Homo sapiens: one gene and its partners. The protein of the gene in region 6 interacts with the protein of the main gene of each other region in a pairwise test. Each region holds a gene or a part of one and is shown on either strand. Other genes may lie near its edges. The genes, in order: FRMD4B, RARB, ABCA2, RELN, KIF1A, RSPH1 and NELL1.

The links.
Region 1: the proteins of RSPH1 (region 6) and FRMD4B interact in a two-hybrid assay, tested with the Homo sapiens proteins (one large-scale study listed by BioGRID and IntAct).
Region 2: the proteins of RSPH1 (region 6) and RARB interact in a two-hybrid assay, tested with the Homo sapiens proteins (one large-scale study listed by BioGRID and IntAct).
Region 3: the proteins of RSPH1 (region 6) and ABCA2 interact in a two-hybrid assay, tested with the Homo sapiens proteins (one large-scale study listed by BioGRID and IntAct).
Region 4: the proteins of RSPH1 (region 6) and RELN interact in a two-hybrid assay, tested with the Homo sapiens proteins (one large-scale study listed by BioGRID and IntAct).
Region 5: the proteins of RSPH1 (region 6) and KIF1A interact in a two-hybrid assay, tested with the Homo sapiens proteins (one large-scale study listed by BioGRID and IntAct).
Region 7: the proteins of RSPH1 (region 6) and NELL1 interact in a two-hybrid assay, tested with the Homo sapiens proteins (one large-scale study listed by BioGRID and IntAct).

The regions. Positions count from the first base shown.
Region 1 is NC_000003.12:69,197,305-69,201,213, forward strand, and holds part of FRMD4B (FERM domain-containing protein 4B), read right to left. Parts: exon of another isoform or gene 3,517-3,909; coding exon of another isoform or gene 3,508-3,516; intron 3,206-3,507; exon of another isoform or gene 3,067-3,205; intron 1,471-3,066; coding exon 1,394-1,470; intron 1-1,393. UniProt on the Homo sapiens protein: Member of GRP1 signaling complexes that are acutely recruited to plasma membrane ruffles in response to insulin receptor signaling.
Region 2 is NC_000003.12:25,434,589-25,438,497, reverse strand, and holds part of RARB (retinoic acid receptor beta), read right to left. Parts: intron 1-3,909. UniProt on the Homo sapiens protein: Receptor for retinoic acid. Retinoic acid receptors bind as heterodimers to their target response elements in response to their ligands, all-trans or 9-cis retinoic acid, and regulate gene expression in various biological processes.
Region 3 is NC_000009.12:137,025,356-137,029,936, forward strand, and holds the start of ABCA2 (ATP-binding cassette sub-family A member 2), read right to left. Parts: upstream 2,883-4,581; 5' UTR 2,786-2,882; coding exon 2,720-2,785; intron 2,557-2,719; exon of another isoform or gene 2,109-2,556; intron 1-2,108. UniProt on the Homo sapiens protein: Probable lipid transporter that modulates cholesterol sequestration in the late endosome/lysosome by regulating the intracellular sphingolipid metabolism, in turn participates in cholesterol homeostasis.
Region 4 is NC_000007.14:103,563,036-103,566,944, forward strand, and holds part of RELN (reelin isoform a precursor), read right to left. Parts: intron 3,725-3,909; coding exon 3,566-3,724; intron 3,378-3,565; coding exon 3,189-3,377; intron 2,517-3,188; coding exon 2,243-2,516; intron 1-2,242. UniProt on the Homo sapiens protein: Extracellular matrix serine protease secreted by pioneer neurons that plays a role in layering of neurons in the cerebral cortex and cerebellum by coordinating cell positioning during neurodevelopment.
Region 5 is NC_000002.12:240,722,577-240,726,485, reverse strand, and holds part of KIF1A (kinesin-like protein KIF1A), read left to right. Parts: intron 1-1,081; coding exon 1,082-1,215; intron 1,216-2,449; coding exon 2,450-2,511; intron 2,512-2,927; coding exon 2,928-3,073; intron 3,074-3,829; coding exon 3,830-3,909.
Region 6 is NC_000021.9:42,493,425-42,497,806, forward strand, and holds the start of RSPH1 (radial spoke head 1 homolog), read right to left. Parts: upstream 2,801-4,382; 5' UTR 2,763-2,800; coding exon 2,709-2,762; coding exon of another isoform or gene 2,696-2,708; intron 1-2,695.
Region 7 is NC_000011.10:20,668,073-20,672,564, reverse strand, and holds the start of NELL1 (protein kinase C-binding protein NELL1 isoform 1 precursor), read right to left. Parts: upstream 2,980-4,492; 5' UTR 2,842-2,979; coding exon 2,787-2,841; intron 1-2,786. UniProt on the Homo sapiens protein: Plays a role in the control of cell growth and differentiation. Promotes osteoblast cell differentiation and terminal mineralization.

The DNA of each region.
Region 1 (3,909 bases), on a different chromosome or scaffold from region 6:
GATTATACAAAAACATTTAGTTAGAAACTCTAAGGATGTGTAGCCATCACAAGTGGTAAGGAATAAATGGGATAAGATTTTAAAGAAACAGCAACCAAGTGTGGGGTGAGCACCTAATTCAAGGTAAAAGAGCATTTCAGATCTAGGTAGATTTGGCCGGCTCTGACATTATCAGAGAATGCACTTAACGATAATGGCTGAAAATATGCAAGTCCAAAACTGTCCAGAGTGCTGCTTGTACACCAGATGGAAAGAGGAAAGGGGACGGGGGAGGAGAGAGGAGGAGGGAGAGGGGAGAGGGGGAGCGGGGAGAAGGGAGGGAGGGGAAGTGAAAGAGAGAGAGACAGAGAGAAAGAAAGAGAGAACAGGCAAGAGGCAGACAGACTGTGTGTGTGTGACGTGGTACTAATGTTCTTTGTAGGAATTTGGCTTATCTCTTCAGGTCACCTTTTTATCACAGGTATTTCCTCCCATCCCTCTGGCCTCTAAACATCCATAACCATCTCGGGACTGAAAAGTACCCACTAAGGACTGATTAAGAATTTCTCTTAAGGCCGGGTGCCATGGCTCAGCACTTTGGGAGGCGGAGACGGGCGGATCACCTGAGGTCAGGAGTTTGAGACCAGCCTGGCCAACATGGTGAAAGCCCGTCTCTACTAAAAATACAAAATTAGCTTGGCGTGGTGGTGCATGCCTGTACTCCCAGCTACTTGGGAGGTTGAGGCATGAGCATCACCTGAACCTGGGAGGTGTAGGTTGCAGTGAGCAAAGATTGCGCCACTGCACTGCAGTCTGGGTGACAGAGTAAGACTCTGTCTGGCAGTTGGGGGCGGGCGGAGGGGGGCGGGATTTCTCCTAAGATATTTGAGAACCCACATCCTGACTTCAGTTCATGTTGGTAATTTGGCTTTTTTTTTTTTTTTTAAATGACCAAGAACACCAACATTTTAAATGAGCAAAAGATCTGAATAGACATTTCTCTACTAAAGATATAGGAATAGCTAAGCAGCACATGAAAAGATGCTCAGCCATCATTAGTCATGAGGGAAGTGCAAATCAAAACCACAAGAAGGTACCACTTCAACCCACTAGGATGGCATAAACTATACATGCACACAAAACTAAAAATAACAAGTGTCGGTGAGGATGTGTCGGCATTGGAACCACATATACTGCTGCTTGGGATGTAAAATGGTGCAGCACTTTGAAAAGCAGCCTTGCCATTCCTCAGAGGGTTAAAGATAGTTACCATTTGACCCAGCAATTCCATTCCTAGGTATACACCCAAGAGAAATGAAAACATATGTTCATATAAAAACTTGTACACAAATGTTGATAGCAGCGTTATTTGTATAGTAACTGTGTCATACAGAGAAACGTCTTTGATCCTCACCTTCGTGGATCATGAACTTCAACAGCAAATTTTTTCTCACGGAAATATAAGTTCTCCAGCTGTTTCCATTGGAATAACTAAAGAAAACAGAAAAGCCAGGAAGTATTATTTATGCTTATTTTTACTAATTCTATAAATCAGCTTAATAATCAAACAATTATAAGCTCCAAGAAGGTACACTGATACGATGAAACATGAATATGTGATTCAGCCTTTTTACAAATCAACTATGACCTGAAACCATTTTATTCCTTCTTCTGGCAGCAATCTTTAACTATTAAGATTCACCTCGGCCGGGCGCGGTGGCTCACGCCTGTAATCACAGCACTTTGGGAGGCCGAGGCAGGTGGATCACGAGGTCAGGAGATCGAGACCATCCTCGCTAACACGGTGAAACCTTGTCTCTACTAAAAATACAAAAAAAATTAGCCGGGCGTGCTGGTGGGTGCCTGTAGTCCCAGCTACTCGGGAGGCTGAGGCAGGAGAATGGCGTGCACCCGGGAGGCGGAGGTTGCAGTGAGCCCAGATCGCGCCACTGCACTCCAGCCTGGGCGACAGAGCGAGACTCCGTCTCAAAAAAAACAAGATTCACATCACCAATAAATCTTCCTTGAACAATAAAACCAACCATCTGTGGAAGAACATGTACACTATTTTTCCTCTGACTCAACTATATAATAAGGAAATCTGCACAGATTCCAGTAAGCACCAGCCTTCTCAAAGATGTTGATTTCATAGTTAAATGGAAAGATATTCAAAGGGATATTTCAATAACATCAGAGATTGAATTTCAAAAGAATACAAAGTGAAAGTAAAACGGAACCCCCATGCAGGGGTGATTCTCTGAGATACCACTTTCCTACCTATGAAGAGTTCCCCTAAATGCCACAGAAACCTAGCACCAGTAATTGGGGGCAGAGAAGGGGTAGGAGGGAACACCAGAGCCTCTTCTTGGTTTCTGAGCTAGAACCTCCAGTTTTTGAACATAGCTAGCTCCCAGTGTCTGTACACTCTGATATACACACTACTGATACTCTATTGCGGCACTCAGTGCCGTCAGTTTGATTGGGAGGAACAAACTTTACTAGCAATGTGCATTTGAAAACCAAATAATTTGATAGAAAGCAGCTCATTCACAGAATTGAGGATGCCTTGCTATGTTTTCTGGGCTGCTTCCTAAGCTCTTTATAAGACATTGTACTATCCTGAGCCTTGGTTTGTCCTGTCAACTTGGACTTCATGGTCAAATTCCTCTTCTCTGCCCCCAGACTTGATTAGGGAAATAACAGCAGAGAGTTTCATTATATTATTAGACTTCGGCTGGATTTTAAAATTATGTTCAAAGAATCTTAAAAGATTATTTTTAATAGTCTATACAATAAGCACTTCTCTGCAATGCACTATCAGCAAAACCATTTCCTGACATACGGGAACCCAGGCTTTTCACAGACATGTAAACCTCATCATGTAAAGGAACAAAATGAGCTGAAGGTTTCTATACGTATGCAGGCATGGGAAAAAAGGGTTCAGACTGGACCCCCCAATTCCGAACAGTGAAATAAACCAGCACACCCTAAAAACACAGCCCTCCGGGGTCCGCACACATAGCTGTCTGTAACTATAACACTCACTCAGGTTCACAGAAGAATTAATAAAAGTATAAAGTTACATACCCATTTCTTAAAATCTCCACAAACTTGAGGTTTTCATTTCTTTAAATCCAGAGGTTCCAAAAATGGGACAGAAATGTGAGGAAAAACCTCAGGGTTCTTCCGCCCTCCCCCCTCCCAGACGGCAGCTCCGGTGAGTTCTGAACTGAGTTTCATAAGACACTTAGGTGTAACTCAATTTCACAAACTGAGCCTCCCACGGCTGACACACTACTGACATCAGCAACTCTCCTGAGTGACACCTCCCTAATTCTACTCCTTCCTCCCATCAGGGAGAGGAGGGCAAAGTTCTCAGTGGCAGATTTTCCCAGAAAAGAGACCTTTCTAAAATGGAGGGCAGTTGGGATTTGCCTGATACTTCCTAGGAAGTAAGTTGCTTTGAATCCAAGGACGAATTTCACCGGAGGCTGTTTTAGGAAGACATTTCTACCCTAGTTTACTCACCCTGGACATGAACAGGTTCTACAGGAAGAGTTACAATGCAGCTCAGCTGTGTTTTCCTTTGCGTCCATTCCCACACACATAAAAACCAGGGCTGGACTTGAAACATGATCTCTGAAAGTCACCACCTCCCCCTCTTATCACTTACAAATGTGAAACCCTAGCGCTTTGGACTCCATTCAGCCTGTCCCTGCATTGAGAGCAAATACGCTCCCTGCAAGCAAAAACTCTACTTAAAAGGCGAAGGACTTCAGCTTAGAGAATTTGAAATAACTGGATTGTAACTGGGTTTGCACAAGGTTATGGGAACAAGACTGGGTTTAAAGCATGAAAGGCAGAGAGCAGTTCATTCCCCTGCCTGAAATCTTAAAAGTTTGTGCAAAGTATGATTTCATATATGTGCAT
Region 2 (3,909 bases), on a different chromosome or scaffold from region 6:
TTAAACATGGAACCAACCAAAAAACTAAAAGCCCCACAACTGTTCTTTAATTTAATCATTTTCAGAAGACAATACTTTCTTTCTTGTTATAGTGCATATACGCTACGATTGTTATGGTGGACATTCTTTGCCTTTCTCTCCCAAACTGAAAGGTAGTTATTGAATCTGGGCTGGCCCTGTGTCTGCTTCACCAGCAGAATATAGTGAAAGCGACTGTATACCACTCTCTGGGTCTAGGTTTTAAGAGGACTGGGAGCCTCTGCTGCCTCCTTCCTGGAAGGTTCACTCTCGAAACACTCTCTCTCGGAATACTGCTGCCATGCTGTGACATGCACAAGTCACATGCAGATCCCCTAGAGCTCTCACCGACAACCAACATCCACCACCAGCCATGAGAGTGAGACTTTTTGGATTGCCAGCCCAATTTAGCCATGGATGATTCAGCCCCAGCTGACAGCATGCGGAGCAGAGGGTCTGCCCAGCGGAGCCCAGCCCATCCACAGAATAATGTCATAATAAATTGTTAGACCAGGAAGTTTTGGGATGGTTTGTTACACAGGAATAAGTCACAGAAATCATAGAGAAATAAGTGATTTTTAAAAATCCAATAGAATCAAACCCATCCCCAAGGAACATGATTACTTAACACGCTCCAGAAACATCCACATGAAAGTCTTCAAGAAGCTAGTTTGGAAGGTGTGCACTTATTCCACTGTGTAAGATAGGTTTAGAACTCCTTTGTGAACTACTTTTAGAGATGATCTATGAGGCCTGCACACAGAAAAACTTCACGCCCGCTCCACTGTGACAAAAATGTATAATCCACTTGATCACCCACCATATAAACCAGCTGTGGTTCTTGGCAGTTCTTAGTTCTTTCCATTATCAATCTTAGGTTCAAAGACATGGGGAGATTTTTGGGTTTGTTATAAGGGGGTTATGTGACAACGACTTGTGTCACAAGTTCTTCCCATTATATCATGAGTTCAGAGGGAGAAGGGACAGTGTCTGATTCATCTTGGTGTCCCCCACAGATCATATCAAGGAGCCTGGCACATGGCAGACACCCAAGAGCCATTTGCTGAATGGCACGTTGCAAAAACTAATCCATCAATGAGCAATAAAAATGTACTGTGCCACGACAGCATCTTTGGGCTAAGTGTATTGTGACAACTTTGAAGGTGACAATGCTCACTTGTAAAAGTCAATCATTTGCAAGAAATCTGGGGATCTGGTAAATGGATGCCCCTGAATCAGGGCACAGTGCTACCTGACAAACAGAAAGGACTGCCACCTAGGTTATGAGCTATAGACCGAGGGATCATTTCACCAAAGAAAAGAGATACCTAATTTAGATATGACCAAAAAAAAAAAAAAAAAGTTTGCTTTTAGCAAAGGCACGTAAGCCACAGGTGTCATGCCAAAATCAGGGCAGAAGGCCTACCTGGTGACTTCCATATGTTTTCAAGACAAGAATAGAATCTTAATTTACATGATCTCTAATCCTTCTACAGATCCTGCAATGTAGACACTATTATTCCCATTTCATAGCTGTAGAAACCGATCCTGTGTCAAGGCAGGCTACTTGCATTATCTTGGACCATCAGGCCATGATGGGGAAGCAGAGGTGGAGAGATGCATGGAAGGGTAATTCTGAGAGGACCAGGGAGAAGCAGCAGTAAAACTCTTGGAAAGGGAGAACTTTTCACAGCTTCTGCTGAGTGCAAGAAAATTATTATACCCCCTTCTCTAGAAAGCCTTTGAGGTACAGGTGATAGGATAAGCTCTGGAAGAGTATTCACAACTTCTGCCTGAACTATAAGCCCAACATGGGTTTCTGGAAACTCTTGCCCGAGAAGCAGAGAGATGCCTTGTTCATCTGCATCCCCCAACTTTCCCTGCAAATCCAAACCTGTTCATCCTACCTCTAGTTTGTATTGTTTCCCCTGATAAGGAGGGCCCCAGTGAACAATTAAAGCTTTCAATAAATAATCTCTAAGCACATTCATTTGATTGACTGTTATTTGATACAGCAGTTAGTTTCAATGGGGCAGTTAATATTGATCACATAAAGTACTCCAGACAAACATGAAACAGTTCCAGAACTCCATGGATTATTACCCTTTATCTGCCAGTCATCTGGGTTACTTGTAATGGTCACGGAATTTAAAATCAATAATAACAATTAGTGTTCTGTACACCAAAACGGATGAATCATGTGAAATGGGTTTTCATATAAAATCAAAGGTAAAGCAAGCCGATAGCATGGAAAAAAAGCTCTCTGAATTTCCAGTGCACATTTGGCAAGGCACTTTCACATGCAAATCCTCAAAACAGGCAGCAAGAGCGAAAGAAAGGTGCTCAGGAGAAGATGTGGCCATAAAAAAGCATATGAAACCCCTGACGATCTTAATCCAAAAAGATGAAGCGTAAAAGATAAAAGTGATCAAAATGAGTTCTAACAAATGTAGTAAAATTAATGGAACCGGTAATTTACTTCCTTGGAGATGTGTCTAGCTACATTTTTCAGCTTTCAATTTCTAGGCATTAATCGTGATTTTTTTTGTAATAAAATGGCAACAACGGTATTTTAGTAGCTCCATGGCACGACTACTGTAATATAATGTATATATAATTAAAATGCAAAGCAACAGAGAAATGTTTCATCATTAAACTGTAACCAGTGCACTATGTGAAATCATCCATTCCAAAGACTTGTTTTTCATCAATTATTTGTTGTTTATCTGATGTAAATATAAAAAGGACTAATTAAAATATATGCCTTTTTATACAGCTTCTTGTCATTAAAGCCAATGAAAGCATTCTGAGGACCATAATGAAATAATTATGTTTGCCTTTAAGAATTCTCTTCAATAACACATGGCAGTACTGAGCTAAATTAAAACATCAGGAACTGAATTTCGCTGCCTCCATTTCCATTTTAGTTAATTAAACCCCCAAGCTTTCCAATAGACCAGCCCCTAAAAAAATCTTTTGAAGCTGAAATGGCCTTCAGATCATCGGCCTTTTTATAATTATGGACTTTGATGACATGACAAAGGTACTGTAGCCGTTGAAAGCTTTAATATTTTTGAGAAGACAAATTTATTACATGAGGTCTTCATTTGCTCTGGAAATGGGAAAAAAATTGGGATGTGATCCAGATCTTCTCTCCCTAGTTAACCGATGCACTCATCTTATTTGTTCTTTTACCTGCACATTATTTTGAATTTAGCTATTTTTTTGACTTGACAAAATTTTATTCTGTGATGAATAGTAATTTATCAACAACAACATAGCAAACATTCCACTAAATATGGGTCAAATTAGGACAGTGATTCTTTGTCAAACACTGAAACTTAAAAAATAAGAAGCTATCTTTAAGACAGCAGTGGACTGAGGAGAATCTGTGAATTTTAAGAAATAAAATCCTTCTGTTTGACTTTTCTCCTCCTCCAAATCTCAAATCAGATACTTTGGAAGGCAAAGAATAAAATAAAATGAAAATAAATCTGGGTTTAAGAGAAAGGGAAGAAGGAAAAAGGGGAGGAAAACTGCTAAGTGGTTTCAGGGCTGGTAGCAAATGAAATGGCTTTAGCAATGTTGTCATCTGATGCAGATGGGGATGGGAACTTTGTACTTTCAAAAGTAAATACAAGGCCGGGCTCGGTGGCTCACGCCTGTAATCTCAGCACTTTGGGAGGCCGAGGTGGGCAGATCACGAGGTCAGGAGATCGAGACCATCCTGGCCAACATAGTGAAACCCCATCTCTACTAAAAATACAAAAATTAGCCAGGTGTGGTGGCACACGCCTGTAGTCCCAGCTACTCAGGAGGCTGAGGCAGGAGAATCACTTGAATCTGGGAGGTGGAGGTTGCAGTGAGCTGAGATCACACCACTGCACTCCA
Region 3 (4,581 bases), on a different chromosome or scaffold from region 6:
CACAGGACAGAGGGGCCCTGCCCTCCCTAGCCCGAGGGCGAGCACCCAGCTCGGAGGCATCCTTTGTCCTCATCCCCATCCCAAAACCCTTCAGAGCCCCCAGTGTGCTGTGTGGCCCGGGCCGAGTCCCCGGTCCCTGGGGTGGGGGCGGCTGCTGTGTTTACTGTGCTTGGACAATAGGGCTTTGTGGCCAGGAACATCATGCTGTGGGTGTCCCATGCCCGCCCCAGCCCGTGCCAGCCTCCACCCGCTCCCTGAGCCAGGACGGAGCCCAGGGTTCGCCAAGGCACTGTGGGCACCAACAGGCACCAGGGCGAGGGTGGCTGCAGGAGTGAGGCAATGTCAGAGGCAGGGGTCACAGCACGGGGCGCCAGCCCCGCCCACACCCGGCCTGCTATGGGCACTGTAACTGCAGCAACAGGCCCGGCTGCCTCCCCCATTGCTATAGCAACGGCCTCGCACGAGCTACTGGGAGGAGGAGGAGAGTCCTGGCTGGCAGGCGGCGGGCGCCACAGCAGCATCTGGTTACAGGCGGCAGCACAGGTCTAGCACGCCCTGGGTGCCCCACACAGGTGCCTCCAGGTGGCCCAACCTCCGTCCCTCGAGACCAGCCCAGTGCCTTCACATCGCCTGGAGGCCTAGATGCCTTCTCTGGGCATGACCCCTCCCTGTAGCTCCCGCCTACTGTGTCGGGGGGAGAACAGGTGAGACCCGAGGGTGGCGCTGCCATCTGCCATCCCAGTGACTTCATGACAGTGACCCTGTCCCTGCACCAAGAGCAGCCTGTAGCCCAAGGGTAGACCCAAGTCCAGCTAACTAAGAGGAGATAGGCCACACTCACAGACAGGGAAACTGAGGCAAAGAGCTTGGAGGAGCCTGCTAGCAGCACAGAGGTCCTTGGCACCCACCCTCCAGACCCTGAGCTCTGCCCAGGGTGGAGCTCTGCCCAGGGTGCACCCCTGCCCCAGCAGGGCGCATGGCACACAGGGCAAACCTCTGTCATCCAAGCTTGGCCCCAAGAGTCCAGCTCTGATGTCCAAGATCCTTCCCAGGAAAGTGGGGACCCAGCAGGAGTGTGCCCAGTGTCCAGCCAGCCCCAGCCCCACATCACAAGCCTGGCAAGGACTCAGCCTCCCTGGGGGAAACAGTTCCCCACCTGCTCCAGCCATGGGCTAAGGACCTCCACTGTGGCCCAGTGGGCCTCTGGGAGCCCTGTAGGGTGGGGACCCAAAAAGGTCCTGGGGGGCAGCCCAAACCAGCAGCTGGGAGTCACTCTTGCGGTCAGGACAGTGCACACCTCCCACCTGCTTGCCAGCTGCCCTCATAGGCCACACTCCCTTCCCTGAGCATTGTCCCCACTGGAACAGGGGCCACCATTCCAGCCTCTGCTCCCAAGCCCAGTGGGGACCTTCCTGACAACCACCCCCGGGGACTAATACTAATGCATGCCACATGCCACATCCCTGTTCCCTTGGCCCTGCTCTGCTGTCCCCAGTGACTCAATGCCAGGGGCTGCAGGCCTGATCCATGGGACCCCACTCAGCCAGCTCCAGGTGCCTGGCCAGGGCATGTACCTAACCCAGGCTCCCCGCCAAGGCCAGGTGCCCAGGGGAATTCTGCCAGCCATGGTGATGATGGCCACCCCAGCTGACTGCAGCCTGGGTTTCCTGCAGTGCATGTTGAAAGATAAACAGGCACGGACTGGTGCAGCCCAAGGGGTCCCGCCCGGGCCCTGGCTGGGCAAGAGGATGTCTGCCTTAGGCCCCCACCTGCTCTGAGCCCTGGCCTGGACAATCCCAAGGGCCTTCAGAAACCTAAGCTGGTCCAGGCCTGTGGCCTGGGAGGTGTCCCTTCCCTTCCCAGGCTGGAGCCAAGCTGGCCAGCTGGGGGTATGGCAGGACACCCATATCCCCAAGCCCCTCGCTCCACGAAGGACTTCTGTCCCTGACAGCCATGTGTCCTGCACCCTCAGGTCCACTGGCTGCCCAGGCAGTGCTGGGAAAGCCGGGGTTCACAGCTCCAAACAGTAGACCCAGCCCCCAGAGCAGGTGGGGGGACCAGGAGGCAACAGAGTGGATCAGGCTCGGGGAGAACTGACCCCAAAGGACAAATGGGTGCAGAGATTCAGGCTGGCCAAGGCTGGCACAAGGACATTCCCAGTGGCGAGAGCATGAGCAAGGGTCACGGATGTGCCAGGAGGGGAGGCGGAGAGATGCCTGGGACCAACCTCTATGGCAGGCCGCGGCCCAAGGGCAGGGGAGGGGTGGACGGAGGGAAGGGACAGGGTCTCCTCCGGGACCCCAGGGAGGCTGGGCCCAAGGACCATGGAGCCTCGCAGCTGAATGGAGCCCCCCAGGCCTGCCTTCTGTCCTGGGAACCAGGGCCTCCCTCGAGCCAGAGTCCTGAGCGCCGCTTGCCCCCCGCCCACAGCGGCCCCAGCGAGCGCGCTGCAGAGGGCGCGGGTGCCGTGACTCAGCCGAGCACCGCGATGTCAGCGGACGCGGGACCGGACTGGACACGACCGAGCCACCTCCCCGGAGGCCGCAGCGCCGGCAGGCGAGGGCAGGGCCCGGCGGGGAGGGGGCTCGGGCCCGCGCCGCCCCCAGCGCCCGCCGGGGTCTGCGCGCGCCCGGCCGTCCGCACGTGCGCGCGGGGAGCGCGCCTCTGGCCGCGGTGCGCGCGGCCTCGGGCTGAGGGCGGGCGCGTGGGGTGGGCTCACCGGGCTCCGGCGTTTGAGCGTCACGTTCTTCCAGAGCAGCAGCTGCAGCTGGTGCAGGAAGCCCATGGCGGGGCCACGCTCCGCCGCCTCAGCGCCGCGGCCCGCTCCTCTGCGCGCCCCGCCGGGCCCCGCAGCCCGCCGCGCCGCTGGGCATCGCCCGCGCGGGGGCGGGGCGCTCGGGCGTCCGGGACCCGATCCGCGCTGGCTCCGCCCCGGCGGCCGCGGCGACAGCGACTCTGCCCGCGCCCCGCCCGCCCCCGCTTAAAGGCGCCGCGCTCCGTCCGCGCCCGCCAGGAGGCGCCCGCCGCCCGCGCCGCGCCCGGGACCGACCCGGGCCCGAGACCCTGCGCGCGCCGCCGCCGGGAAGCCTCCGGGCCGCCCCTCGCCGGGCGTCACGCGACGCGCCCACATCGAATCCGAGACCCCGGCTTAGCCTTCGTAGGCCGGGGGACCCTCGGGCGCTGCGCTCTTCTCCCAGAGGCATCCGGCTGCGCCCACCGCGCTGGCGACTCTGCAGAGGCGCCCCAAGCCTTCACTGTCCCCGGGGCGCGCCGAGCGGACGCTGGCGAGGGGCCAGCTCACCCCCGTAAGGGTCTCCTGTGTGCTTTGTAAACCAGCACTTGGAGTCCAGGTGGTGCCCACCTGGAAGGGAGGCAGGGCGGCCAGGTGGGTCCGTCCCGCGATTCCGAGCAGCCAGCGGAAGGGGGGAAACTCGAGGCCCCAGGAACGCTCGCCGTGAGCGGAGCAGGCAGGGGACCGAGGCGGCCCCTGCTGCACGCGGCTCGTTTTTCTCCCCATATTCGGGCGAGTCTGGTCTCTGCACAGGGAGTTCGGGATCAGGCGGTTCTGCGGCTGTGGCTTGGCACCTGCTGGGGCGCCCCGGGAGGTGGGGCAGTTCCTCCGCGTGGCCTGTAGAGAGCGACAGAGGACAGGCTGACCCCATGGGTGGCTCTGACGGCGCTTCCCAGACTCAGTTTCCCCCCTGTGAATGGGGTGGAGTAGCGCTGTGTGGTGTCCAGTGTCAGGGCGCACATAGAAGGCGCATCCTCAAGTGAATGAAGACCTCCGAGGCCACAGCTCCCCACTCCTCCCAGCTCCTTTGCAGCAGGAAGGTGACCCTGGGCTAGTGAGTGAGGGATCAGCTTCCCACCCCAGCCCGCAGCCTCAAGGCACTTGCTTTTCTCTGCTCAGTCCACAGGGCTGGGTCAGGGCAGGAAGCTACCAGCAGGTCTTTCCCACAAGCCACAGCCATGGGTGAGGGGGGCTTCCTGCCCTCAACCTGCCCACCCCTACCTGGGGTAGGGACAAGCCCTGTGCCCCAGCCCCGGGGGCTTAGCCTGTTGGGGCCCTGGTCAGCACCACCCGTGGGTTGGCCTCTCTCCTCCTCGCCCCACTCTCCACCGTCCACTACAGGGGCTCCCTGGCTGCAGCCGCATCCCCAGTGCCTCCCCAGCACTGGCCACCAGAGGGAGCTACAAGGCACAGGTCAGACCCTGTCACCCCAGACACCCTCCAGCCTGCGGGCCTGGGAGATGGGCGATTTCAGCCTGGCCAGGCCTCTGACGTCCGTTCCCTACTCTTCCCCAACCTTGGCCTGTTTTGGTTTTTGTTTTGAGACAGGGTCTCATTCTGTTGCCCAGGCTGGAGTGCTGTGGTGTGATCACGGCTCACTGAAGCTTCAACCTCCTGGGCTCAAGCCATCCTCTCACCTCAGTATCCCAAGTAGCTGAGACCACAAGCGTGAGCCACCACGCCCTGCTAATTCTTGTATTTTTGGTAGAGATGAGATTTCACTACACTGCCCAGGCTGGTCTCGAACTCCTGGGCTCATCGCCTTGGCCTTTTGGGGGACACAGAAGGCT
Region 4 (3,909 bases), on a different chromosome or scaffold from region 6:
TCCTGGATAAGCCCTACTCAGAGTCAGCTGAGACATCAACTCCTTCAGAAAGCTCCCTCCAGTTCTCCCCAAATGAGTTAGGTAGTACCCTCCTGTGTTTCAATAATATCTCTGAGTACTTCCTCTGGTATCATCTTATAGCATAAACAGCTGCTTAGAGGTTTGTTATCCTAAATACAGTGATGTGCTGCATAATGACGTTTCTGTCGATGATGGACTGCATTTATGACAATGGTCTCATAAGATTATAATGGATCTGAAAAAAAATTCCTATTGCTAATTGACATCTTGATGATTCTGACCTTGTGTATGCCAAGGCTAATAATGTGTATTTTTGTGTCTAAGTTTTTAAGAAAGAAGTTTTCAAAGTTAAAGTTCTCAAAATATTAAAAGCTTACAGAATAACGATAGAAAGAAAACATTTTTGTACAGCTGTACAATGTGCTTGTGTTTTAAGCTGTTATCACAAGAGTCCAAAAGTTTTAAAAAAAGTTTATATAATGGAAAAGTTATAGTAAGGTAAATTTATTATTGAAGAAAGAAAAATATTCTTTTTTTAAATTTAGTGGAGCCTAAGTGCATAGTGTTTATGAAATCTATAGTAGTGTACAGTAATATTCTAGGCCTTCACATTCACTCACCACTCACTCACCCACTCACCCAGAGCAACTTCCAGTCCTGTAAGCTCTGTTTATCGGAAGTGCCCTATACAAGTGTACCATTTAAAAATCTTTTATACCATATTTTTATTGTACCTTTCCTATGTTTAGATATGTTTAGATATACAAATACTTGGAATTATGTTACAATTGCTTACAGTATTTAGTATAGCAATATGCTGTACAGCTTTGTAGCTGAGGAGCAATAGGCTATATCATACAGCATAGGTGTGTAATAGGCTAAACCATGAAGGTTTATGTAAGTTCACTCTATGATGTTCACACAACAATGGAATTGCCTAACGATGCATTTCTCAGATGTATCACCATCGTTAAGTGATGCATGACTTTAACACATTTGGATCCTGGCATCAGCTTATTCATGTAGTACCAGAGTGCTTAAAACACAGTAGATATTCAATAAGTGTTTGTTGAATTTTTAAAAAATGAATAAATGAGCTACAAACAAGTAAGCACTATTTAAAGCTTTAGCAGTCATAGGAAACTATTTTAGGCTAAATACTAAAATGTTTTGGCTTCCTGAATTTTCCCTTGCCTCTTGGTTGTACATGTCTGGATCAGGTTTGAACCAGGAAAACAGAAACCACTATAAACACTTAACACAGAAAGAAATTAGTGCAAGGAATTGGATGTATAGCAAGTGGCAGAGCAGAGAAGCCAGTAGAAGCAGTGAGGAAACCGGAGTTTAGCAAAGTCAGGAAGCCACTTACTGTGAGTCTGAGACTGTAGGGACACAGGGAGGAAGTGTTGTTGCTGGTGCCCAGGGACCAGGGTCACCTGGAGGGCCACCCAGGGGAGCTAGAGCCACAGAAGTTGGCCAAGATGCACTTGAGGCAGAAAGAGGGGGGAGGAACACCCTGATTTATCCCTTATCTCTCCCCTCCATTCTCCTGCAGTGTCTGACAGATGTAGGAGGCTGGGAAATGCAGCCTGCCATTCAGAACAGAGCACAGGAATGGAGAGGCAAGGATCTCGGGGGAGCAGTCACAGGAGGTACAGCCTCTAACCAGTCACCACAGTACCCGTTAGTTCCCAGAAACATCCTCCAATGATCCAAATGCCTACACCACAAAAGTGGAAGCCTGCTGTAAGTCAGTACAACTCTTGAATGTGATCTGAAATGCTGGGGAGGGGAAGACAGATGCAAAACAATATGAGCATTCCAAAGGAACCAACCTTTTGTTCATACTGTGGTACTGAGATGAAAAAAAACTAAGGATACTCTCCAATATGTGGTAATTTCACATACTGTTTTGTGTGAATAAGTATCAGTCTGGTTTATGGGCAGAGACTTATTTTTACAACAGTTTAAAAATGGAATCTGGTGGGCAGCCTTTATGCTGGCAAAGAACAGAAAAGTTCAGCCTCATAAAACTTTTGGTGCTCTCTAGCCACATTTAAAACTTGCAACCCAAAGCACCTTGCACTTTTTTTTCTTCCTGGCACTTCCATGCATAATTATCATGAAAGAATAATAGAATCCCCAGGCCGAATCACAATTATTTTCAAATTAAGTGACAGGCACCCAAAGTTCTGACATGTAGCCAAATGACAATTCTCACATGGTGGAGAGTGGAAGGTAGACAGTGATCCGCTTCCAATTCTGGAATCTTTCCGAGGTGTAAATTGAACTTTCCGTGTAATGCAGACAGCCAATGGTTGGAGGAACACACTCTTCGGTGACAAGATGCCAGTCCTTGCCATTGTTCAGAGAATACTGGAGCTGTACACTGTGGGAGTTGCTGAAGGGCTTGCTACAGCCCATGCTCATTTCAAACTGCAAAAAGGTAGATGCTGACACATGAAAATCCCAGGTCTCAGCATAACGAGGTTTTCCTGAAAAAAAAAAATGTGTAATGGTAGCATATATGTGTGCCATTTTCTTATTTGGTGTTTATGCTTATAATAAACATCTTCAATAGCAAACAAAAATCATGGCCTATCTTTAGTGCCCCCTATGTGCTTTGACTTTTCTTCTTATATTTTCTGCTTCTATTTGGTTACCATAGATTTAGAAATATAGAAGGCTGCTAATTTGAAAAGCATTACCACCTTGGAAAGGGCTAACATATTATCTTTAAAATATTGATATATTACAGTTATACATATATTGGGTTACATGTGATATTTTGATACATTTATACAATATGTAATGATCAAATCAGGGTAATTGGGATATCCAGCACTTCAAACATCTATCTTTTTTTAAACATAGAGTCTTAAGTCTACAAGTTATGAAACATAGGAATGTCCTCTCATAGATTTTTTTGCTCTTCTAAGAAACCTTACTCATATCATTCATGTTCTGTGAAAGACAGTTCCAACAAAAACCGTCACTAGGATCACCAAGTTGTCTTAGCACAATAAAACTTTTTTTTCACTGAGAGCCACCCTCAGCATGGGTAGTTAGGCACACGGTTTTGCATTAGAAAGTTTTCTCCTGACTTTTAGTTAATTTAGTCCTCTAGTTAATCAGATATTTTCCCTTTATCTGGTGACAATATATACCTATGTTTTCAGTGAATATCAGAGCAGTATCCATAGAGAGACAGTCAATATCAACTTGACCTCCTTGGATTCGATACCAGTTGGCTTGCAAATCTATAGAGCCATCAAATTTGTCTTGAAATCCAGTTTGAGAGCTGTCATTCATTCCTATAAGAACATCATCCAAAGCCCACTGGGCTGAATGCTTCCCTGCAATCAGATGAATAAAGGTGGTTAGAGAAGTTTTGTTACATAGCAATATGAATATCTTCATGACTGTGATTTTAAATCAAATTGTCTAGAAATTGACAGCAAATTAAGAAACACACAGTGCAAGGTGGGTATGGATACTTCATGACCTAAAAGCTACCAGAAAGCTGGAGTGAGCAGTAACTTACCATGTTGCGGTTGCCACCATCGAAATGCCGTTGCAGGTGTCTTCGCGTCCTGTGGCAGGTCAATGGAAATGATCTGTGGTTCCAGGAAGGACATGAAGTCCAACTCTCGAAGCAAATGCCAGAGTATCCCATTGTCATTTGAATACTGAACAATAAGCCCTGAGTTAAAAGACATAAATCCAGTTATTTGGACACTTTCCTAGAGGGGAAGGAACAGTATTTCTTAAATGGTGAGACTGCAGCAACCTCAAATTGTGTCTCCTAGAACGAGGGCACATTTGTGTAACTTCCAAGGAATGAATTAGTGGACCTGAAGGCTCATCAATTTTTTGATGGTTTCTAAT
Region 5 (3,909 bases), on a different chromosome or scaffold from region 6:
GTGCCTGCCACCACGCCCGGCTAATTTTTGAACTTTTAGTAGAGATGGGGTTTTGCCATGTTGGCCAGGCTGTTCTCAAACTCCTGGCCTCAGGTGATCCACCCACCTCAGCCTCCCAAAGTGCTGGGATTACAGGTGTGAGCCACCGCACCCATCCTCCATGTGCTTTTAATGGCAGTTAACTCACTCTACCATACTTAGTGTGTGGGTGTTGTCCTTGGGATGCAAGATGGCTGCAGCACCACCAGACATTGTGTCTGCATTCCGGGCAGCACAAAAACAGAAGTGTTCCATCCCCACAGCACCCCCAGAGTCTGCAGTACATAGGCCGTGGCCAGACCTGGGCTGTGGCCTCCCTTCCAAGTGCAAGAGGTGACTGGAAGTGTGGGCGTTTCTTGCTGGTCATAGTAGTGAGGGAGAGGGAGGGTGGGGAGCAGTGGGCAGGGGCATCTGCAAGCACATCCCCTCTCCTTAGTTACAGCCGAATTATTCCAGCTTCACATGGGGATGGTGTGACCATCTCACCAGATGGTGGTGAGGTTGCCGTGAGGAGGCGCTGGCAGAGCTCTTCCCAGCGAGTGCTTGGGACTCTTCAGCCATGCACAGCAGCTGCCCCCACTTCAGGAAGACAAAGGGGCCAGCTGTTCAGCAGTTAGCGTGTCATCCACCAGGAAGTCATTTTCTGTGGTGTTTGGGTTAAAATGTGCACATTCAAACAAGACCTGGTTTGATCCTCACAGACATTCCAGGGTCGGGGAGGGGTCACCCCAATTTTATGGTGAGGCAGCTGAGGCCCGAGCAGTGAGCCTATGTCTGGGACCCTCGGGGTCCCCACACATGGAGACCAGTCCCTCAGGCAGCCCAGGGGTGGACAGAGCTGTGGCTACCTGTCCCCAGTGGGGTTTTCTCGAGGGCAGGAGCAGAGACTTTCTCCTGCCTGCGTCCAGGCCACACCTGAGGCCCTGGGAAGGCCCTGGGGCTGCCTGTCGGTGCTGGGCATTGTGCCCCCAGGAGAAGGCTGGAAGGGCACCTGGGCACTCGGGGTGTCCTTGTGCCTGAGTCCTGCTCCCGCCTATCTCAGATGGAGAACTGCACCCAGCCGGCTGTTGTCACCAAGGACTTCTGCATGGTCTTCTATTCCCGTGATGCCAAGCTGCCAGCCTCGCGCTCCATCCGCAACCTCTTTGGCAGTGGGAGCCTTCGGGCCTCAGAGAGGTAAGCTCCCAGGGGTGAGGACCACATGGACTCCCACCCTGGTCTCGGTGCGGGCCAGGCAGGGCTCTGCCTGGCAGCGGTCCTTGGGCCACCCGGCAGCTCACCCTGTGCGAGGCCCAGCCACACTCCTGGCTGGCTCCCTGCGCTCAGTCCCCTCCTGCTCACCCTAGATGAAGACTCTGTGGAGGCCATGGTTCCTGCAGGGGACACTGACACCACTATGAGGGACTTGAGGGCCAGCCTGCAGCGGATGGGAGGAGGGGCAGGCCCAGGGTGCCCACCTGGGGCCTCCTGTGGGTGATCCTGGGGCCACACCGTTCCCCCCCCCCCCCCCCCGCCGCCGGTGACCTTCTTCCCTGAGGACCACGGAACCTGTGCCATGGGACTGACTGCCCACAAGGCACTGAAGGAGGAGCTGGATAAGTGGGCGGTGGCTGGAAGGGGGCTCTGGACACAGCTTCCCACAGGACCTGCTGGGTGGCTCTTCTTGGAGGCTGTCAGCACCTTGGGGAGCCACACACCGAACACCAGGACCAGCCGTGCTTGCGTGCTGAACACGCTCCTGATTCTTGGGGGTGGGGGAGAATGAGCCGGAATGTCAGGGCCCTGACAGCAGGGCTGCCGAGGCTACCGGGCACCCGTGGCCACCTTCAGTGGGTCTCCCTGTGGTCTGCCACATGGACCTGGTGTCCAGGTTCACACTGGGCACAGCTGGGAGGAAAGAGCTTGGGGGTCAGGATCCAGTGTCCTTGAGGGCTGGCTGTGGTCATTCTGGAGGTCACTCAGTAATTGTGGGATGCCACCGACCTGTCTGTGGGAGGGTGGCCGAGGTGCTCTCAGAATCTGTCCGGGGCACAGTGGGGCTGCTCTGTGGGGTATGGGGCCTGAGGGGCTCTCGACGCCGTGGAGGGACTGGAGATGCCAGATGCTGTGCTCATGTTGCCTGTACCCCACTTGGGCTGGGACAAAGTGGAGGCTGCTGTGGGGGCCTGGCCTCACGTCACAGCCCCATGGGCACCTGAGCAAGACCAGCCAATGCATCTTTTCTCTGGGGGCCGGAGGGAGTCTGGGATGAGGACTCTGAACAGGGGCTGTAGCTCAGGGACCTCAACACCCCATCACCCCAGCCAGGCTGACTGTGCGTTTGATAGTGGGGCAAGTCAGCAGCCAGGCTGGCTGTGTGTCCCTGTTGCGGGGCCTGGTGACTGCATGTCACTCCTTCTACTCCCCACAGTAACCGTGTGACTGGTGTGTACGAGCTCAGCCTGTGCCACGTGGCTGACGCGGGCAGCCCAGGTAGGTATCTGCCCTGCTCTCACTGGGTGGGTTCCTGGCCTGCTCAACCTCTGCCCACTTGGGGTGACCACAGCGAAGCTGCCATTTGCAGGGGGATCCCTCACAGAACCCAAGCACTCACCTTGTGGCTTCTGGAGTTGTTCTGAGATGGGAGGAGAGCGAGGGAGGAGAGTCAGGCCTGCTGGCTTCCTTGGGTTCCCAGGGCACAGCCGAGATGGCCATGGGACGCCGGGCTGGATAACTTCCTATGGAAGAGGCCTACATGGCTCTTTGGGCCCCAGGGTGGACCAAGGACCAGGGGAAGCCCATCTCCACTCCAGAGGGGAGACAGCTTCACAGATGGGCGGACCTCTAGGATGGGTGGGAGGAGCAGCCACCCATCAGGTAGGGGTGGAATGTCCACGTGCCCCATGCAGGGATGCAGCGCCGGCGCCGACGAGTCCTGGACACATCTGTGGCCTATGTCCGGGGCGAGGAGAACCTGGCAGGCTGGAGGCCCCGGAGTGACAGTCTCATTCTGGACCACCAGTGGGAGCTGGAGAAGCTGAGCCTCCTGCAGGAGGTGAGGCAGCCTCAGAGGATGAGGCCCGCACGGTGGTGTCCATGTGGCTTTGTGTGCAGAGCAAAAGCTGGAGAGGGCCCAGGGCCTGGTGCCTACTGGGGGGCAGCACAGCTGCTTGGGAGTCACAGCCACCTGCAGGAGGAGCATGTGATGCTCCAGTGTGCACTGCGGGGCTGCGTGGTGTATGACAGAAACATGGCCAGTGTAGCACAGAGGCATGCTCTGGAATTAGCCGAGGAAGACTATCGGGCATATAGACAGAGGCCAGAAAGGGACCCGGAAGGAGAGTCGCGGGGCTGGGCTGCCCTCTGCGGCTTTGATCAGGGAAACCAACATGCAGCATCTAGGCACTGCCTCGGGCCGAGTGTGTGTGTGACACGTGACGCGTGACGTGTGAGATGCGTGAGGCCAGGGCTCTGCCCACCCCTCGGCCCTCTCCTGAGGCCTCCAGCACTGCAAGGCAGCACAGCCCTGCCCCAGAACCTGGCGCGTGAGATGGATGTGTCTGAGAGGAGCAGCTTGCTTGCTGCCCATGAAGGTGGCAGGGCTGGGGTGGGGGCTGAGGGCTGTCAGCCCCGGGGCGCCAGGGTCTGTTCCCTCATTTCACAGCTGAGGGCTGTCAGTCTTCAGTCTTAGCCCAGGGGAGGGTGGGCTCTCCGGGGTCTGCCCAGAGGGTCATGCTGCTGCTGAGGCTGAGCACAACTCCGGAGGTCACCCCTGAGGTGCAGCAGGTAAGGCCTTGTGTCCTGTCTGAAGGTGGAGAAGACTAGGCACTACCTGCTCCTGCGGGAGAAGCTGGAGACCGCCCAGCGGCCTGTCCCGGAGGCACTGTCCCC
Region 6 (4,382 bases):
AACATGCTTGAAATAGTACATGCGGGTAGAACAGTTCAAGTCCACACAAATACCTCCCCGTTTGCTTCCTTCAGTAATCCAGGATTTCAAAGGCAAATGCCCAGAGAGAAGCAACTCTTCCCTCAAATGATCCCTGGGGCGGGGTGTGGCCTGAAGAGACCTTTGCCCTGCAAGGAATTTCCGATGGAAGGGACAGGTTGGAGGGCACTGAGGAGTACACAGGGCTCCCTTGCTGATTAAGTTTATCTTATTTTTAAGACCCCTAGCAAGAGACTTAAGGTTCGAACACTCATGACCCAATGCTGCAATAATTATGTATCTATCTGTGGTTTGTTTTTGTTTTTGAGACAGGGCCTCACTCTGTTGCCAAGGCTAGAGTGCAGTGGCACAATCTCAGCTCACTGCAACCTCCGCCTCCCAGGCTCCAGTGATCCTTCCACCTCAGACTCCTGAGTAGCTGAGACTATAGGCATGCGCCACCATTCCCAGCTAATTTCAAAATTTTTTTGTAGAGACAAGGTCTCACTATATTGCCCTGGCTGGTCTCAAAGTCCTGGACTCAAGCGATCCTTGGCCTCCCAAAGTGCTGGAATTACAGGTATGAGCCACCATGCCTGCTCAATTATGTGTCTATCTTAAAAGTAAATAAATAAAAAATGTGATCAAAGCTTGCAATTTTCCTATCCTTCAGAAAATAAATGTTCCTTAGCACCTAATACATGGGTATAGAGTGAATATAGTAAATAATAAAATGCTGAAAGCATCCAGTAATGATTTAACATGGGTATCTCATAACATCACACTGTATTTCTTAAATATACATAATAAAATTTATTAAAAATTAAAATTAAGAAATTGAATTGGATGTATATAGACTTATTATAACACAAGTACTGACACACTACATTGAGGACTTCAGAAATAAACGTCTGTGCAATTCTTGCCCTTTTCTAGCACTGTTTGGACCACTAATTCCTGCCTAGAATATAAGGTAAAAATCTGCGACCTCACAGATTTGTTTCAGGGTTAGTTTACATCAAAATGTACAAAAGTCCCCTCCTTCTATCCAAGAGGCTTCCCAATACACCCAACACTGAGCCGCTGGGGTGGCTGAATAAGACAGAAATCCTTTAAAATGACCCCAAATGTGATCTGAACCTAAAAATTATAGGCACTAAAAAGTTACAAATCAGTGGGGCCATTTGAGGAGACAAACTAGAAATCTTGCTGGTCAAGTGTTGCAGGTTGGGTTCACCTAGAAACAGACCCTGAACAAGTGATTTTTTTTTTTTTTTGAGACAGAGTCGCTCTGTTGCCCAGGCTGGAGTGCAGTGGCGTGATCTCGGCTCACTGCAACCTCTGCCTCCCGGGTTCAAGCCATTCTCCTGCCTCAGCCTCCCGAGTAGCTGGGATTACAGGTGCCCGCCACCATGCCCGGCTAATTTTTTGTATTTTAGTAGAGACAGGGTTTCACCGTGTTGCCCAGGCTGGTCTCAAACTCCTGAGCTCAGGCAATCTGCCCACCTCGGCCTCCCAAAGTGCTGGGATTACAGGTGTGAGCCACCGCGCCTGGCCTGATTTTTTTAAGTGCTCTCCTGGGAGAAAGTAGTAAAGAGGGCAGGGAAGTAGACATGAAAGGGCAGGCAGCTAAGGAAGGATGCCTTTGCAGGTGAAGTCCCAGACTTGGCCTAATCCAACAGGGACTCTGGGGGCATCAATCGCACTGCAGACTTTGTCCTGCTTCTTGCACTAGCTACTGGCTGTCTGGCCGGATGTGAATTTCAGGCACTTCTGGCTCTCCATACTGGGCAGGTAGTTCCAGCGCACAGAGGTGATAGCTTGAGTAGCAAATCAGGCGGAAGCTGGGAGATGAGTGCCCAGAGCTAGCAAAAAGGTCTGGGCAGGCACTGACAGCACCACTGCAGAGTCGCTAGATTTTTCAGTTAATTCTGAAAGTACCTCAACTCTGTACTGTGCATGCAGACCATAGTGGCTGAGGTTCCCTATCTGTCAGCCATGGAGAGGTCACTCTCTGGAGTAGGGAGGAACTACTCTCTGGGTGATAGAAATATTCCCACACAGAACCCAGCTCACAGGCTGGATGTGCCCTCTTTCTCCTCTCTGCTGCCTAACTCAGGAAATAACTCCAAAGACCTGGGTCAGTTCAGATGGGGACTGAAGAAAGCACATGTGAGGATACGCCTATAAGGTAATATCTTCAGGAACCCTCTCCTGAGCCCAGGGCCTCCTCAGCATTTCTTGGAGGCTGCCAGGAAGCAACTATCCTCCATGCATCTAAATGCCGGGGGAGCAAATCTCAGCTACAGAAATGACTTATTCAAGGGCAGTATGGCAGCGTGGGATGATCTGCTCATCCGAGAAAACTGCCTCGATGGGAATTAACACAGGGAGGAGGAAACTTCCAAAGCCTTCCGCTGGGAAATCTTTGCCTTTAATGGGAGGCAGGATGGGGGTGGGGGAAGAACGAGGCGGCATGTGGTAACCAGACGTCACAGCGTTTCACTTTTCACCATCAACTTCCAGGACGCACGCAGGTGTGTCTGGCGTGGCCTTCGTCCCTGCCGGGGATCCTGGGGAGCTGTGGCTCAGACCTCTGGTTTCTGCGCCTCCTCACTCTCCAAACCCAACCTCGAGGTTCCCCCGCCGCTGCGCACCCTGGGAAGCCCTTTCTCACCAGGAGCTCTCACCCCAATATCATTCTCTCCCTCCTCCTCCAACTCCTCCGAGCCCAGGTCCGACATGGTCTCGCCCCAGCCTGGATCACAGCCGCAGCGCCTCTAGCAGGTGGGTAGCAACCGCCTCCACCGCCGCGTCCCGCGTCGCCATGGAGACGCGGCCGGTCCCGCCTCCCTCCCAGCCCGGAAGATGGGGAGCGGGGACAGGCGACGCGGACGAAGCGGGAGGAGCCACTGGCAGCCTTTGCGTACTGTCATAGCAACGGGAAGGGCACCTCGACCAATCACCGCCCGGGAATACGGAGGGGCGGGGCGGAAGGGACGAGGTGGAGCCAGTGGCAGCACTCTGGTGCCGTCATAGCAACGAGGGGCCGCTTCGGCCAATCACTGCTCGGGAAGCGAGGGGGCGGGGACTGGGCAGGGCCTGAGCGGGTTCTGTGCCTGGCTGCCCACCGGCTCTCTGACCTGGACCTCGCCGTCGCTGGCCCCTGAAATCCATCACTTTTGTCGGCTGTTCTGTGACGCCACAACGAGGAGCCACCTGGGTACTGGGCCCTCAAGAGGAAGGACGCGGGAAACGCGTCCGGGCCAACTCTCGAGAGGGTTTCACCCCTGCCCAGTGCGGGCACTGCCCGCTCCCTTCCGCCCCCAGGCCTCGCAGGCCCCTCCGGGGATGCTGCCCACCCCCACTTACCTTTCTAGGCTCTGCTGACCCTTCGGGATTCGCGGCTAGCTGTGATGTGTCCGCCAAGATCTCTTCTCTTGTCTGTAAACAACTTCACTCTCAAGGAGGCAGCTCTGGCCTCTCAGCAGGTGCGGCCTACAGTGATGTCCGTCCGGGTTTTACATCCTTCCCCGACCTCGACATGAGTCCCAGCCCCCTCGGGCCTCTGACTCTCAGGTGTCCCCTACGATCGCCGTCCTCTCCTCTCGCTCCTGGCTCCCCTACACTGTCACACACCCACACAATCACAGACGCACACGCATGTACACGTGCAGGCTTGGAAATCTGCTTTACCTGACGCACTCCGCCTGCCGAAGGCCCCTCACATCTCCCATTTCCTCTGCCATCATCCCAGACTGCAAAGCTGTGTTATTTGTTGTTGCTGCAGGAGCTGGGGAGGAGTGACTGAATAACTATAGGATTTGGTCTTGATGGGAGAATCCCAGAAGCCAAATCCACGCGGTGAATAAGCTGCTGATCTTCCAGAGCACACATCCCCTAGAGATTCTTCCCAATGCTAATATGAAAGGTTACAACCATAACCCATCATCAGGCCCAAATATATTACTTACTGAATAAATACACAAGTTACAACAACACACGAGATTCCAAAATTATGTCGTTTTTTAGATGCAAAGATAAAAATGTTGTAAACACCAAAATTTAACAGCTTTTCTTATGGGGAAAAGTGGGGAGTTAGGGATAACAGATGATTATTATTTTCTTCTCTACATATTGGCAGTTACCCAGTTACTACAATTAAGCATGTCCTATTTTTATAATAAAATGCCAGAAGCATTTTAAATGTTAGAAATCTAGAATGGTAACATAAGTATATGCAAATAAATACTCGTTTTTTACATTTAAAATGTCAGAAATTTAGCTTTCAAATTTGTCCTAACAATGACAGTAACCAGTGTTTACTAAGTTCTGACACTGTGTGTGGGCACTGTTTTAAGAAT
Region 7 (4,492 bases), on a different chromosome or scaffold from region 6:
GAATGGCACCTCCCGTCTTGACTCCACTTTGCACTCTAAAACAAGTTCTCTGAACAAGGCAGATTTAAGCAGCTCCTCATGACACCTATCATTAGATCTTTTCATATGCAACTGTGTCTGCACTGCAGTCTTGCTTTAATTAAAATGTGCCTGATATCATCTACTCAGTTCCATTAAAAGCCGGTGATATCTGAGCAGCTCACTAAGTGAACCACATGTTTATTTCATCTAGGACTGTTAACAGCCCAGACAACAATTGTCCCACTTGACAAAGAAACTTTCAACGCAGCTGTTTGGATGCTGATAATCACAAGCCAGCCTTTGTTACCTAAGAAGAGGGTGGATGGATGATGTGGAAATGATTTCTGCACAGAATCAGAGGGCTGCCTCCAGAAAGCTACCGCTTATACCCTCTCAAGCTACAAGATACTTTAAGTGTACAAATTGAGAGGTAATTCCCCCGTCTCTCTGATTCTTCCGATAATGTGTGTAGAAGAAATATGCGGCCTCTAGTGTTCAAATAGTGCCAAGTGACATTGAGAACCCAAGCTCCCTAGGCAACAGCCACAACCAGTGGGTCAGATCCTTCCATGCTTCCCTGCCTTTGCTGAATCTGCTCCCTCTGCCAAGAATGCCTTCCCACTTTGTCCACCTGGAAAACTCCCTAGAAAGCCTTGAAGGTACATCTCTCAAATCCCTGACCACCACTCCTCCCTAGAATTAATTCAAACTGTCTCTCCTCCACATTTCCTTAATACAAACTTATACTCCTACCTCTCCACCACCCCCCCCATCAATCTGTAAAATTAAAATGCCTGCCAGTTTCTATCTAGATTCCCAGCTGAGCTTTAAGTTCCTAGAAGTCAAGGACTGTCATTTCCTCTTTGCATAAGAAATCCTGGCACCCAGCAAGACATCGTTTGTTGAATGAGTAAAGACATGAATGAATCTTCCCCTACAACGAAATTTTTACAAGATTTAAAGGGGATTGGAAGTGGAAAGAGGGAAAATACCTGTTCTTAAAGACCCCTTCCACAAGCAATGAACCCTGAAACACGTTCCATTCCGTGATAAGGGTACTTTGGCGACTTTTCAAAGGAGTAATGAGAACAAAGGATTTAGGCATATTCCGTAGTGATGTGCACTTAGGGATGTGAACTCACTAACGGGTTGCCCCCTCCCTACCTAGCTTCTTCCTGTCTGCGGTTCCTCTGTAAGATGTCCACGAGCACCAGACTCTCGCGCTCAGAGCCAGTAGCCCACGCTCTGCACTAGTCTTGCCTGTCCTGATCTTCCTGGGGTGCGCGCACTCCTTCAGCGTGTCCTGGTTTTAAAAGACTAACCCATCCGGATGGGCCTGAACTCAAGAAGCAACTATTCTAAGCTAGACTGAGCCTTGGCGTCTCCGCAGCCTGGGAAGCTCGGATAGAGGTAAGGAACGGAATGGGAGGTTTCTTTTGTCCCTTGAGAAATCCATATTCAACATTCTTAACCAGACGAAAGCCGCTGCCTGCTCAGTCCTGGGGAAGTGGGAAGGGCCCTCTGAAAGCTCCTAGACGCTAGATCTTCCAGCGGGCTAACTGCCAAAGAGGGGCGCCTGGGCGCAAGCGGAGGGAACTTTTGAGCCAACCAAGTGCAGACGCCCCTTCTTAGCCCTCTCCAGATGAACTTGCTCTTTGGCCTAGAGAGAAGGCCACGCCTCTAAAGAAGGAAATAAGGATGGTAAAGGGGGGAGAATAAAGGGAAAGGGAATGACCACACAGATTCTGGGGTGCAGCGCGTACGGAGGATGGCTGGGTAGGATTGCAAACCTCCGACACTCCCCCCAGTTGACAGGCCCTATTTTTGCCAATTTCCTACATCTCACCCCACCTCACCTCACCCCAGTCTCCCCGCATCTACTACTAGCTCTTTGAAGAAGGCGGCTGCAAGCCAGTCTCCGAACCCCAGGGGACTTTTGGGCAAGGGAGCCGGTGGAAGCAGAAGGAAGAAGATGCGCTGAGAGTCCTCACAACTGCGTCTCCGGAGGCAGAACGAAGTGGGGACTTCAGACAATCAAGCGTCATCCTTGCTCCCCCCTCCCCACACGGAACCCTGCGATTATGGCAAGAGAAAACTGGTTTGAGCTTGAGAAAATTTCCCCAGATTGTCTCCACTGCTCTATTTCCCTCAGATAATTGTTCGCCCAGCCCTTGGGAGCAAAGACAGGCGGAGGAGAATACTCCTGGAGTTCTCCTGGGTAGTCAGGAAGGCACAGGAGGAGATCGCGGGATCCCAGGGTTCTCCCGCAGCTCTCTGCCCTCGCCGCACCGCGCCCTCCCGGGCCCCGGCCGCGCCCGCCAGCCGGAAGCGCTCCCTCTGCGGGTGCGACTCCCGCAGCTACCCCTTCCCAGCCTGGCGGGGGTCGGCGAGAGTGGTTTCCACAGCACCTTACAAGTTCGGGAACTCGGGGCACGCGGGCCCGCCCTGCTGCGGGTTTCGACTCCCTGGGACGGAAAGCCGGTTACTAGCAGCAAGAGGGTGCGCCTACTCGGCCGCGCCCCTCACTCCTGCGCCCCTGAGGCCGGGTCCCCTGAGAAGGGGCACTCAACGGGGACATCTTCAAGCCCGTGAGTCCCTATTTTCACCCTGTCACTCCGAGCAGGGCAAAGAGATCCCAGGAACCGGTCCACGCTACCGCCGTTCCCCAGACCAGCGCAAAGCTCGGCTCCAGGTCTCCCCACGCCGCCGTGGTCTGTGGGCACCCCCATTTCCCGGATCCCTCTAACCGCCACAGTCATGCTTACCTGTCCTGGCAGTGCACACACAGAACCACACAACTAAAATCAAATCCATCGGCATCGCTCTCGAGGGTCCCCGCCTAGCAGGGGGCACCGAAGCTAGGTGGAAGCAAATGAGCCTGGATCCTGAGGCGCGCCTGGCTTGGAGCCGCCAAACTTGCTAGCGGGCGGCGGGGGAGGTGGCTCGGCAGCGCCGGGTGCTGCGCTCGCATATGCGCCCGGGAAGGCAGCCCCGGCCGCCCCGCCCCCAGCCCGCCCCCCACCGCTGGCGCGGCGGCGGCGGCGTGGGGCTCGGGGCCCGGCCCCCCGCTGCGGCTGCGTTCGTCTGGGAGCCCGGGCAGGAGCGCGGGGTTTGGCTACTGTGGCTTGTTGCGCTCCCCACTGGGGGCCGATTCCGTTCGCCTCCTTCGCCCGCAGAACTGCGAGGATCTGGACTGCAGGCGCCGCAGCCGCTATCACCCGGAGCACCGAAGTCGGAGTCCCAGGACCTGCGGCCGAAACGAGAGAGCGGGAGGCGCACGGCGCCCCCACGGCTTCACGCGCTCCAGCCCCTCCGAGCCGCAGTCGCCAATGTTGCCCTCTTTACTTCCGCACCGCGGTGGGGGCTGCCGAAGTTGCCACAGTTCATCCCCGCCGAGTCGAAAAGCCGCCGAGCCCTCGCGGGTGGGTATTTTTCCTCGGGGGAACCCAGACCGAGGCGGCGCCACCGAGCGCGCACGGACCCCCTCGGAAAACAATTACTCGGGATTCGCTCTGTCAACTGGGTGGGGAGGGACCTGAGGGGGATGATGGCTGAGTCCCTGCTCACCGCCTGTACCTTCTGTCTCCTCTCTCCTGTTGAACCCCTATGACTGAGTACTCTCTTTGTGGGTGCAGGAAGAGGGCGCTGAGGTGGGGGTGCAGAAAAGGGGTCCTCGAGGCGGAGCGAGCTGTGGTTGGGGTTTGGGAAGTCTATTTGCAAACCTTCTCATTCTGCAGGGCAGATGCTGCCACATAGGGGTAATTCCTAACCATCTTTTTTTCTTTCTTGCGTGATTTTCTTAATGGTATTATCAAAAGCCCACTCTTCTTTCATAGTCACATTTTGGCCCCATGTGCAATTCCTCCGGGACCTCCACCTTCTTTTCCCTCTCCCACCACAACATTCTCTGGAGAGAAAAGCTGGGCTGGGCTTTGTTTTCTACTTGCCGGCAAGAAGAGAATGGGTCCTCTCCCCTCTATGCGACCCTTTCAGGACCTGACCTTCCCTATGAAGATCCCCCAAATTTAAGACTTCTGTCCCACTTCCTATTTGTCCTACTAACACCTAGGAACGTTATTTATAACTGGATATGTAGAGTCATGAAATCTGAAATGACAGCCTCTGATTTATACCAAATGAACTCCACTTAGCTTGCTCAGTCTTCCCACTCTCTCTGAAGCCCCCGCTCCCCCTCACCAGCAGTACTCCTTTGATATTCACAACAGGGATCCCAGAGGAGTCCAAGGAAACCTCAGAACAGCCGTCCCTCGTTTCCTGGAAACCAATTCCAACGTTTCAGAATCCTCTTCACTAATAAGAACGTGCCCTTCTCACTTGCACCCACTTTCACTTCCTATATCCTTAACCCCTACACAACTTTGACCCCAGGAGCCCCAGTGAAGTTCACCAAATCAGCGCAGCTTATTAAGAGAGAAGGCTTTACTAGCATGCTGTTCTGGTCTCTGCCCTA